3 linked regions of the Homo sapiens genome follow. The protein of the gene in region 2 interacts with the protein of the main gene of each other region in a pairwise test. Each region holds a gene or a part of one and is shown on either strand. Other genes may lie near its edges. The genes, in order: TRIM50, ARHGAP45 and PIBF1.

Region 1 (3,174 bases), on a different chromosome or scaffold from region 2:
AAGCTGGCTGTCTTCCTGCCTGTGCCTGTGTGTAAAGTGGGGTCCCTGACTGCATCATCAAGGGGAAGGCAAGACTGGGATGTCTAGTCCCCAGGAAGACCTGCACCACTGTCGCCTTCACACAGGTTAACTTGGAAGACAAAGGAGCTTGGGCTAAGCTGGTGGAAGCTACCAGGACCAATTACAACAACAAATGTGATGAGATCCGCCATCACTGGGGAGGCAGTGTCCTGGGTCCCAAGTCTGTGGCTCACATTGCCAAGCTCAAAAAGGCAAAGACTAAAGAAACTACCACTAAACTGGGTAAAACGTACACTGTTGAGTTTTCTGTACATGAAAATAATACAAATTTTCCTTCAAAAAAAAAAAAAGAAATGTGAGATGTACAAACAGGATTCACAGTTCACAAACTGCAATTTTTTTCCTTCTTATCTTTCCTTTTTTTTTTTTTTCATTCTTTTCTTTTTTACTGATGAGGTCTCCTCTGTCACCCAGGCTGGAGTGCAGTGGTGCAATCATAGCTCACTGCAGCCTCCCAACTCCTGGGCTCAAGCAATCCTCCTGCCTCAGCCTCCTCAGTAGCTGGGCCCACAGGCACATAACACCACACCCCACTAATTATTTTTTGTAGAGATGGCGTCTCACTATGTTACCCAGGCTGGTTTTGAACTCCTGGCCTCAAGCAGTCCTCCCACCTTGGCCTCCCAAGGTGCTGGGATTGCAGGCGTGAGCCGCCGTGCCCAGCCCCTTCTTTTATATAAACCCTATTTTTGCTTTTGGTGGATGAAATCGCTCTGTTAGCAGTCTCCCTTATGTACAAGACAGCATGCTAGTAATAAAGGAATGAAATGTGTTTGAGTTGTTTTTGACAGAGAACAAGAATAGGTTGGTTCAAAAGTAATTGCGGTTTTTGCCATTACTTTGAAGACCACTTGTCCTTTGAGTAGGAAGGACATTTTTAAAAGGATATTACTTTTTTTTTTTTTTTTGAGACGGAGTTTTGCTCTTGTTGCCCAGGCTGGAGTGCAATGGCACGATATCAACTCACTGCAACCTCCACCTCCCTGGTTCAAGTGATTCTCCTGCTTCAGGCTCCTGAGTAGCTGGGATTACAGGCGCACACTACCACGCCCAGCTAATTCTTGTATTATTAGTAGAGACGGGGTTTCACCATGTTGGCCAAGCTGGACTTGAACTCCTGACCTCAGAAGATCCGCCCTCCTCAGCCTCCCAAAATGCTGGGATTACAGGCATGAGCCACTGTGCCCAGACAAAAAGTACATTACTTTTAAAAGTAATGGCAAAAACTGCAATTACTTTTGCACCAACCTAATACCATTTATGAAGCACTAAGCTGCAACACACGTATGTCTATATACAAGCTCTGCAGCCTGGCCGGGTGGGTGCAAATAGCCCCACTTTACAGATGAGGAACCTGGGCTCAGAAATGACACAACTTGCCCAGCCAGCAGCTAGGAAAGGAAAGAGTAAGCAGGAACCCAAGCTGTTCGGAAACTCAGTCCCATGCTCTCACTAGGACCCTCCACAAACCTCCATCTGAGTTCTCTGTAGCTTATTATCTCTCTGATACAATCGATGAACTGCCACCTGCCCTGGGCGGCAGCCCTCAGGAAGGAGGACGGGTCAGGGCCTCACCTGGCAAAACTTTCCGGAAGAGCCTTTTCCACACGGTCAGCTTGATGTCAGCCTGGTGGAGGCCTGGCTTGAAGGAGATGGGGCTGAATGCGCCTTCTAAGGGCCGGGCCTGCGGCATCTCTGCTCTGCAGGTGACAGTTCACAGTACAAGAGAGTGAGGTATCACGTGGCCCACCCCACCCCTCCATCCTATCTATGTTTGCCCAGCCAGATCCACAGTGCAGGACTGCAGTCACAATGCCCATCAATGCCCATCATCCCCTCCCCTGCACAGCCCCTTCAGGGAGGACCCATCTCCTTCCTAGAAGGGGAAACGCTCTATAGTGGTGCTTCTAGAGTGCAGGTTTGGGGACCAGCAGTGTTGGTTGGAAAATGGTCCAACCCATTCCCAGTAGAAAGTCAATGGTCCACCTGGGAAATGGTCAGAAATGCAGGTTCTTAGACCCCACACCAGACCTGCCAATCAGAAACCAATTATGGGGGCCAAGTAATGTGTCTTTTTTTTTTGAGTCAGAGTTTCACTCTGTCACCCAGGCTGGAGTGCAGTGGCATGATTTCGACTCAGTGCAGCCTCAACCCCCTGGGCTCAAGTGATCCTCCCACCTCAGCCTACCTAGCAGCTGGGACTATAAGCATGTGCCACCATGCCCAGCTAATTTTTTTCTATTTTTGGTAGAGACAGTTTCACCATGTTGCCCAGGCTGGTCTTGAGCTCCTGAGCTCAAGCAATCCACCCACCTTGGCCTCCCAAAGTGCTGGGATTACAGCTATGAGCCACCATGCCAAGACTTTTTTTTTTTTTTTTTTTTTTGAGATGGAGTCTTGCTCTGTCGCCCAGGCTGGAGTGCAGTGGGGTGATCTTAGCTCGGTGAAACCTCTACCTCCCAGGTTCAAGTGATTCTCATGCCTCAGCCTCCCCAGCAGCTGTGATTACAGGTGCCTGCCACCACACCCAGCTAATTTTTGTATTTTTCATAGAGACGGGGTTTCACCATGTTGGCTGGGCTGGTCTCGAACTCCTGACCTGAAGGCATCCTTCTGCCTCAGCCTTCCAAAATGCTGGGATTACAGGTGTAAGCCGCCATGCCCAGCCTCTGTCCCTTCATTTAAACCCATGTCTTCTGACCAAATTGTCTCTAAGACTAAAAGAAATGTGAGAAACACGGAGTCTCCCATAAACAGGGAGTGAGGAAGGCTTGGGAACTGCACGTGTTCGTTTGTTGGGTCTAGAACATGGATCCACTCTCTTCCCACAATCTGCAGAGCAAGTTTCAGGCAGGGCTGATACTGCCTGCTGCGCAAGGGTGAGGAGGGTAAGCAAGGGATGCCCGGTGCTCCTGGATGTTGCTTCTGGCCATTTCCCACCTCTCCCAGCTCCGACTCCTGGTGATATCCTGCCTTACACCCAGCCACCCTGAACTCATAACCAGAGTCCACATGCCACTCCCCCTTTTACAGGACCGTTTCCTCGGCTTGCCTGGCAAACTCAGGTCCTGGGTCCTTCTCAGCCATCAGGCC
Region 2 (3,651 bases):
CAGGTGAGGGAGGCTCTCTGGCGGGCTGGGGTGTGGAGCTGCCTCCTCTCCTGAGCCTCAGGGTTTCATCACCCACCGGGGTGATGGAGGGGGCCCCCCTGGCTGGGGGAGTCTGAACAGTCCTGATTCCCGCCCAGGGGACTTTAAGAAGTTCGAGCGGACGTCATCCAGTGGTACCATGTCGTCCACGGAGGAGCTGGTGGACCCAGACGGTGGAGCCGGGGCTTCAGCCTTTGAGCAGGGTGAGGGTCCCCTGACGGGGCTGGAGAGAGAGGGGGGTTTGGACACAGTCCATGGGCCTGGCCCTGAGCTGCCTTGGTGACACCGGCTGCCTGTGCTGCCCGCAGCTGACCTCAACGGCATGACCCCCGAGCTGCCGGTGGCCGTGCCCAGTGGACCGTTCCGCCACGAGGGGCTGTCCAAGGCGGCCCGTACTCACCGGCTCCGGAAGCTCCGCACGCCCGCCAAGTGCCGCGAGTGCAACAGCTACGTCTACTTCCAGGGTGCTGAGTGTGAAGAGGTGAGTGGGACGCCCCGACGGACAGCTGGGAGCCTTCGGGAGCCTTTGGGGTGCCCAGCACCGCCGGCCTGTGTGCCCTCAGGAATGTCCGGCCCAGAGCAGGGAGCAGTCGGACGCCTTTGGAAGGAAGCGAACGGAGGGGGTGGGGTGGGCTCTTTTAGTTCTGGGGAGCAGGGTTGGCTCTCTGAGGCAGCGAGGCAGGGGGCAGACCTGGAGGGTGAAGAGTCCTGGGGCTGTGGCCAGAAGACCTGGAGGGCAAAGGCCCTGGAGCTGTGTCCAGAAAACCAAGGGGCGGGAAGGAGAGGAGGCCACAGGGCAGGCGGGATCACCCCTGGGGTGGAAGCCACGAGCCACTGTCCAGCTTGTGTTTGCAGAAGCTGCCGTGTGGGGGCTGTGAGCGCCCCGGGGAGGTGGGGTGGAGCCGCTGGGGGCTGCGCTGAGCTGGGCGCCCCGGGGCTGGGCTCACTCACTCTGGCCGCCCCCAGTGCTGCCTGGCCTGCCACAAGAAATGTCTGGAGACGCTGGCCATACAGTGCGGGCACAAGAAGCTGCAAGGCCGCCTGCAGCTGTTCGGCCAGGACTTCAGCCACGCGGCCCGCAGCGCCCCCGACGGCGTGCCCTTCATCGTCAAGAAGTGCGTCTGCGAGATCGAGCGGCGGGCGCTGCGCACCAAGGTGAGGCGGGGGAGGAAGCGGCTCACAGCGAGGAGGCGGGAGTGGGCCGAGGCTGATGGGCCTCCCCACCCCCGGGCTCCCGCAGGGCATCTACCGGGTCAATGGGGTAAAGACACGCGTGGAGAAGCTGTGCCAGGCCTTCGAGAACGGCAAGGAGCTGGTCGAGCTGTCGCAGGCCTCGCCCCACGACATCAGCAACGTCCTCAAGCTCTACCTGCGTCAGGTGAGACCCACCGGTGGTGGCCAGGCAGAGCCTGGAAGGGGCGTAGCCAGGCAGGAGGAGGCGGGGTGGGGGTCCGGGAGCTGGAGCAGGACTGAGCTGGAGCAGGACTGGCGCAAGCGGGGGCCTGGGGAGGACAGGGTGGGCGGGACAGTGCCTGGCAGGGCAGGGCTGAGGCTGGGGGCGTGGTCACGGTAGGAGCGAGGCGGGGCCAGTTCTGCGCCGAGGCACGGACAGGGACAGGAGGGGCGGGGTGGGGCTTGGTCAGCACGTGGCAGGGGTGTGGCCACGGCAGAGGCACACCTGACGCTGTGCGGGGGCGGGGCCGGGGCCGGGGCTCGGTGGGGCGTGGCCAGAGCAAGATGGGCGTGTTCAGCGCTTGGCAGGGACCCGTATGAGGCTAGGGGCGGGGCTGAGGCTAGACAAGTGCGGGGCTGGCGGTGGGGCCTGGGCTTGGTGGGGCGAGGCTGGGGCCAGGGGCGTGGTCATCCCCGGGGAAGGGCGGGACTGGGGCTAGGGGCGTGGTCATGTCTGGGGAAGGGCGGAGCTGGGCTGGGATGGGAGTGGGACCAGCACTTCGCAGGTGGTTGGGAAGGGGTCAGACTATGCTGAGTGGAGCCGGAGCTCGTTAGGGTACCTGCAGGGCGGGGCGCGCGTGGCCAGAGCGAGAAAGGGAGTGGAGCTGCGGGCGTGGCCCGGGTAGGAGGGGCAGGGCTCACGCTGGGCTGGGAAAGGGGACTGACGCCGCTCTGGGTGGAACCCGAGCTCGGTGGGGTGTGGCCAGTGCTCTGTGGGGGTGGGGCTGAGGCTGGGGGCGTGGCAGGCACACGTGGGGGCTGGGCCAGGCCCACCAACACCTGCTGACCCTTGACTCTGCGCAGCTTCCCGAGCCGCTCATCTCCTTCCGCCTCTACCACGAGCTCGTAGGGCTGGCCAAGGACAGCCTGAAGGCAGAGGCCGAGGCCAAGGCGGCGTCCCGGGGCCGGCAGGACGGCTCGGAGAGCGAGGCAGTGGCGGTGGCCCTGGCAGGTCGGCTGCGGGAGCTCCTGCGGGACCTGCCGCCTGAGAACCGGGCCTCGCTGCAGTACCTGCTGCGTCACCTACGCAGGTGAGTCCCGGCATATGGAGTGGAGGGCGCGGGGTCCCGGGAGCCGCTCAGCACCTGGCCCCTGCCCACCCCGCAGGATCGTGGAGGTGGAGCAGGACAACAAGATGACCCCCGGGAACCTGGGCATCGTGTTCGGGCCCACGCTGCTTCGGCCACGGCCCACCGAGGCCACCGTGTCCCTCTCCTCCCTGGTGGATTATCCCCATCAGGCCCGCGTCATCGAGACTCTCATCGTCCACTACGGCCTGGTCTTCGAGGAGGAGCCGGAGGAGACCCCCGGGGGCCAGGTGAGGGTGTGGGCCTGACCGGGGCTGGCCACTCGGGGCTTGGGGAGCAGGGGGCGCTGCTGGGGACAGTCGTTGTCGGATGAAGCCCAAGGAACCACAGGGAGATAATTTGGTTTGGACAGGGCTGTTCGGGAGGCCACTGTCTTTTTGTGTCTTTTATGCAAAAAACTCAGCGAGGTCTGCATTGAATCTGGCAGAGGTGCAAAGGCTCTGCGGCCGCCCCTCCACTCTCCCTTGGGGCTGGCCTTGGGCCTCACCCTTCACCCCCAGCTTCCTTCCCCGTTTCCCATCCCGGTGCTGCCTGCAGCCACAAGCTCCACGCTGGCCCGGTGTCCACAGCCTGCCCGAGCTGCCACTGCACTCCGCCGCGAGGTCAATTCCCCGCTTCAGATTTTCTTTTCTGGGAGTTGTAGTTTCGCTCCTGCTGCCCAGGCTGAAGTGCAATGGGGCGATCTCAGCCCACCACAACCTCCGCTTCCCAGGTTCAAGCGATTCTCCTGCCTCAGTCTCCCGCGTAGCTGGGACTACAGGCGCCGGCCACCACACCCGGCTAATTTTTGTATTTTTAACAGAGATGGGGTTTCACTTTGTTGGCCAGGCTGGTCTCGAACTGCTGACCTCAAGTGATCCGCACCCCCCTTGGCCTCCTGAAGTGCTGGGATTACAGGTGTGAGCCACTGCACGCGGCGTCTCGTATTCTTTCAATCCATCTTCCCTGGGTGTTTAGGGGCTGCGGTTTCTCGGGTTTGCTCTTGGCTGAGGACAGACCGCCTGGGCAACAGCGGGTGTCAGTAGCTGTTACGGGCTGTGTGGGTGGGTTTGTTAATTTATAACATGGAAAA
Region 3 (3,651 bases), on a different chromosome or scaffold from region 2:
ACATAACAAAAAAAATGTCTCTCCTTCAAATCTACTCTGGGCTATTTTTTTCACTAATACTATGCTATATAATATAAGTGACTCTAATTATAAGCTTACCTCTTTTGATAATTCACTTCGTTCTTTTGTTTGAATCATGTGAGAGGCTTCAAGTATTTCATGTTTTCTCCTAAGCTCAATTACTTCCTGTTCAAGTGCATCACGTTCACTGTTAAAATAAAATTCAAAGAGACATGTAAATTTTACATCCCCTTGTACAGCGTACACTTTAAAAGGGTTGACTATGTATTAGGACGCTGAATAGAGACACTAGCAATGGGGCTTCAGTGTAATTCCATGAACTATAAAGTACCTACTTTTCAGATTTAGAAGGGACTCTGTTTCAGACCTTGTTCAAATACATACATATCAATTTATTACCTTTAAGGAATATACAAACTACATAAGCCAGTACAGTAAATAATAAAACTTACTAACATACATTTGGTATTTTTTCATTAGTCATCTTCAATCTTATCTTGAGGTTAAAACTTTTAAAGAATGTATACATGGCTCTAGGCTTTCAGTTCAGTTAAGGTAAAAAAAAAAATACAACTTATCATTTAGATTGCATAGTAGATACGTAGGCAGGCATTCTTGTGACTATTTCATTCACAAATTGTTTATGATTACCCAGATTTTAATTTCCATTTTAAGACAAGTTCCCCAAAAAAGTTATACCAAGAATTGGACTAAAACCTACAACACACATTTTTTAAAATGAGCAGAGAAACAGATTTACTAACTCTTAACTACTTCCCTGCAGTCAGAAGCAGTGCCTTTGCACTTTATTTCACTGACCCACCTGGTATTTCCACAGAGAGGGCTGTTAGGAATTGTTTTCCTTTGCATCAGTTTTTCAAAAACGTTTAGAAAGCCTTTTTTCTTCTAGTTAACAAAATATTATGTTTATTGAAGAAAAACTGAGCAAAGCACAAAATAACAATCACCTACAAACCCAATAAGTAAAGATGACTATCAGTATTACTATTCTGATACATATTACTATACGTATTTTGTGCTTTTTTATTTTTAGAATGTTTAGATTATTTTTAATTAAAAAAATTTTTAAATTTTATTTTGTGCTTTCACATGCAATTTTTTAAAAAATCTTTTTTTTAAATTTTTTTTTTTTTTTATGAGATGGGGGTCTTGCTATGTCACCCAGACTGGACTTGAACTACTGCACTCAAGTGATCCTCCAGCCTCAGCCTGCCAGAGAGTTAGGACTACAGGTGCATGCCACCATGTGCCTAATTTAATTTTTTTTTTTTTTTTGTAAAGACGGTCTTGCTATATTGCCCTGGCTAGTCTTAAAGTCCTGGGCTCAAGTGATCCTCCTGCCTGTGCTTCTGAAAGCACTAGGATTACAGACATGACACGCTGTAACCAGCTTGGTTCTTTTTAATGCTTTTACTTACCAATCATTAACACTGTTGTATTTGTTTTGTAATATTAAATAAATATTACTTTGTCATATTTATTCAAACCCTCTCTCTTGTTAATATATGTGAATATATGCAGGTGTCTTAACGGTATATGTGGAGAATGGGTTCCAGACCCACCCCCACAACCTGAATATGCAAATCTGTACATGCTGAAGTCCTGCAGTTGTTGCAGATCCCACCAAACAGTCAGTCCTCTGTATACTCAGGTTTCACATCCCGTGAAAATTGTATTTTCGATTGGTGTTAGGTTGATAAAAACCTGAATATAAGTGGACCCCATGTTGGTCAAGGGTCATGTATCTATATGTGTATACACACCTACACACACATACTCATACATGTGCATTTGTTTCCTCAACTGAGACATTAGGTCCCTTTATCCCTAAATAATTAGTGTGAATTTACTAAGATTAAAGATAGTCTCTTATATAATCACAGTATAATTATCATATTCAGGAGACTTAGCCCTAATATAATATTATCTAACATACAATCCATTTTCAAATTTTGTCAACTGTCTCCCAAAACACCCTTTGTGAATTTTTTTTTCCCTGAGCCAAGGCTCTATTACCATAATGGTAATCCAAGGATCTATTATCATCATATTATAATCTATTACCATGCATCTAGATGTCATGGGGTTTTAGTCTCCTTTAACCTTGAAGATTTCTTAGTTTTCCTTGTGTTTTATGACTTTTTATAGAGCAGAGGCTAGCTGCATCATAGAATGCTCCTCAATTTTCACTTGTCTGAAGTTTCTTCATTATTAGATTCAGGTTAGGCACTTGGGCAGGAATACTACAGAAATGATTCTCAGAAATGATTCTCTGATACAGAAACGCATTCTCAGTATGTTATGTGAAGATGTACTGAGGTATGTGACGTCAGTTTATCCCATTATTGGTGATAGTAACTTTGATCACTAGGTTAAGGTAGCATCTGCCAGAGTTTAACTATAAAGGTATCCTTTTGCCCTTTAAAATTAGTAAGTAATTGTGAAGAGATGCTTTGTGTAAATATCCTATTCCCTAACATACTTATACTTCATGGTTTTATATTCCAATGATGATTCTGAATCAATATTATTATGCGGCTACAAAATGGTCATTCTTACATGCATATACATTTATTGCTTGGATTTCAACCATAAAGATCCTCTTTCCCAAAAAGGATATATTTATTACCACTGAACTGTACACTTAAAAATGGTAAAGATGATGTATTAAAAAAATTTTAAGATCCTCTTTCTGTATTTATTATTAGCCTGCACTTATAAACTCTTATTCTATTCAATGGACTGTAATTCATTATTGCCAATATTTATTGTGATATTCAAGTTTGCTATATTTAGCCAGTTGGCACCTCATCCAAGTGGCTGTTGCAGTGTTGAATTGGAATTAGAAGTATCAACGTGGGCTGGGTGCAGAGGCTCACACCTGTCATCTCAGCACTTTGGGAGGCCAAGGTGGGCAGATCACCTGAGGTCAGGAGTTCAAGGCCAGTCTGGTCAACCATGGAACCATGTCTCTACTTAAAAAAAAAAAAAAAAATTAGCTGGGCATGGTGGCGCACACCTGTAGTCCCAGCTACTTGGGAGGCTGAGGCAGGAGAATTGTTTGAACCTGGGAGGCAGAGGTTGCAGTGAGCCGAGATCGTGCCATTGCACTCCAGCCTGGGTGACAAAGTGAGACTCTGTCTCAAAAAAAAGAAGTATCAGTATGATCTCATCCATAGTGTGTTAAGCCTCCTCCTCATTCTCCCTCTACTTTCTCTGCCTACTCAAAGGGCCTAGAAATAATGACCAATGTAGCCATGACCATAGCACCCAAATCCTAAATTTCTAAATAGCATTCCCCACTAAGAGATCAAGACTTCTTAGACAAAGAGCTGAGGCAATGAAATTACAAAACCAACAAACGAAAACCAAAACTAGGAACATTATGTTATGCCAGAAAATAAGGAACTTTTAGTAAAAAAAAGTGATACATTCAGATCTAATTTAATGATTTTAACTGCTACATAAAATTATATTGCAGAGTAAATCTCAATTTATTTTCCATTCTGCTACTGAAAAGCATTTGAATTTCTTTTAATAATGACACAATTAACATCCATACACCTGTTTCCTTTTGTACATTTGTGAGAATTTACCCGGGGCATAAAA

Evidence for each region.
Region 1: the proteins of ARHGAP45 (region 2) and TRIM50 interact in binary tests that used the Homo sapiens proteins (3 or more experiments, as listed by UniProt).
Region 3: the proteins of ARHGAP45 (region 2) and PIBF1 interact in a two-hybrid assay, tested with the Homo sapiens proteins (one large-scale study listed by BioGRID).

What each region holds. Positions count from the first base shown.
Region 1 is NC_000007.14:73,314,909-73,318,082, forward strand, and holds part of TRIM50 (E3 ubiquitin-protein ligase TRIM50), read right to left. Parts: intron 1,782-3,174; coding exon 1,657-1,781; intron 1-1,656. UniProt on the Homo sapiens protein: E3 ubiquitin-protein ligase that ubiquitinates Beclin-1/BECN1 in a 'Lys-63'-dependent manner enhancing its binding to ULK1. In turn, promotes starvation-induced autophagy activation.
Region 2 is NC_000019.10:1,080,545-1,084,195, forward strand, and holds part of ARHGAP45 (rho GTPase-activating protein 45 isoform 1 precursor), read left to right. Parts: coding exon 1-3; intron 4-137; coding exon 138-242; intron 243-347; coding exon 348-520; intron 521-1,005; coding exon 1,006-1,194; intron 1,195-1,279; coding exon 1,280-1,417; intron 1,418-2,295; coding exon 2,296-2,522; intron 2,523-2,598; coding exon 2,599-2,809; intron 2,810-3,651. UniProt on the Homo sapiens protein: Contains a GTPase activator for the Rho-type GTPases (RhoGAP) domain that would be able to negatively regulate the actin cytoskeleton as well as cell spreading.
Region 3 is NC_000013.11:72,823,567-72,827,217, reverse strand, and holds part of PIBF1 (progesterone-induced-blocking factor 1), read right to left. Parts: intron 209-3,651; coding exon 100-208; intron 1-99.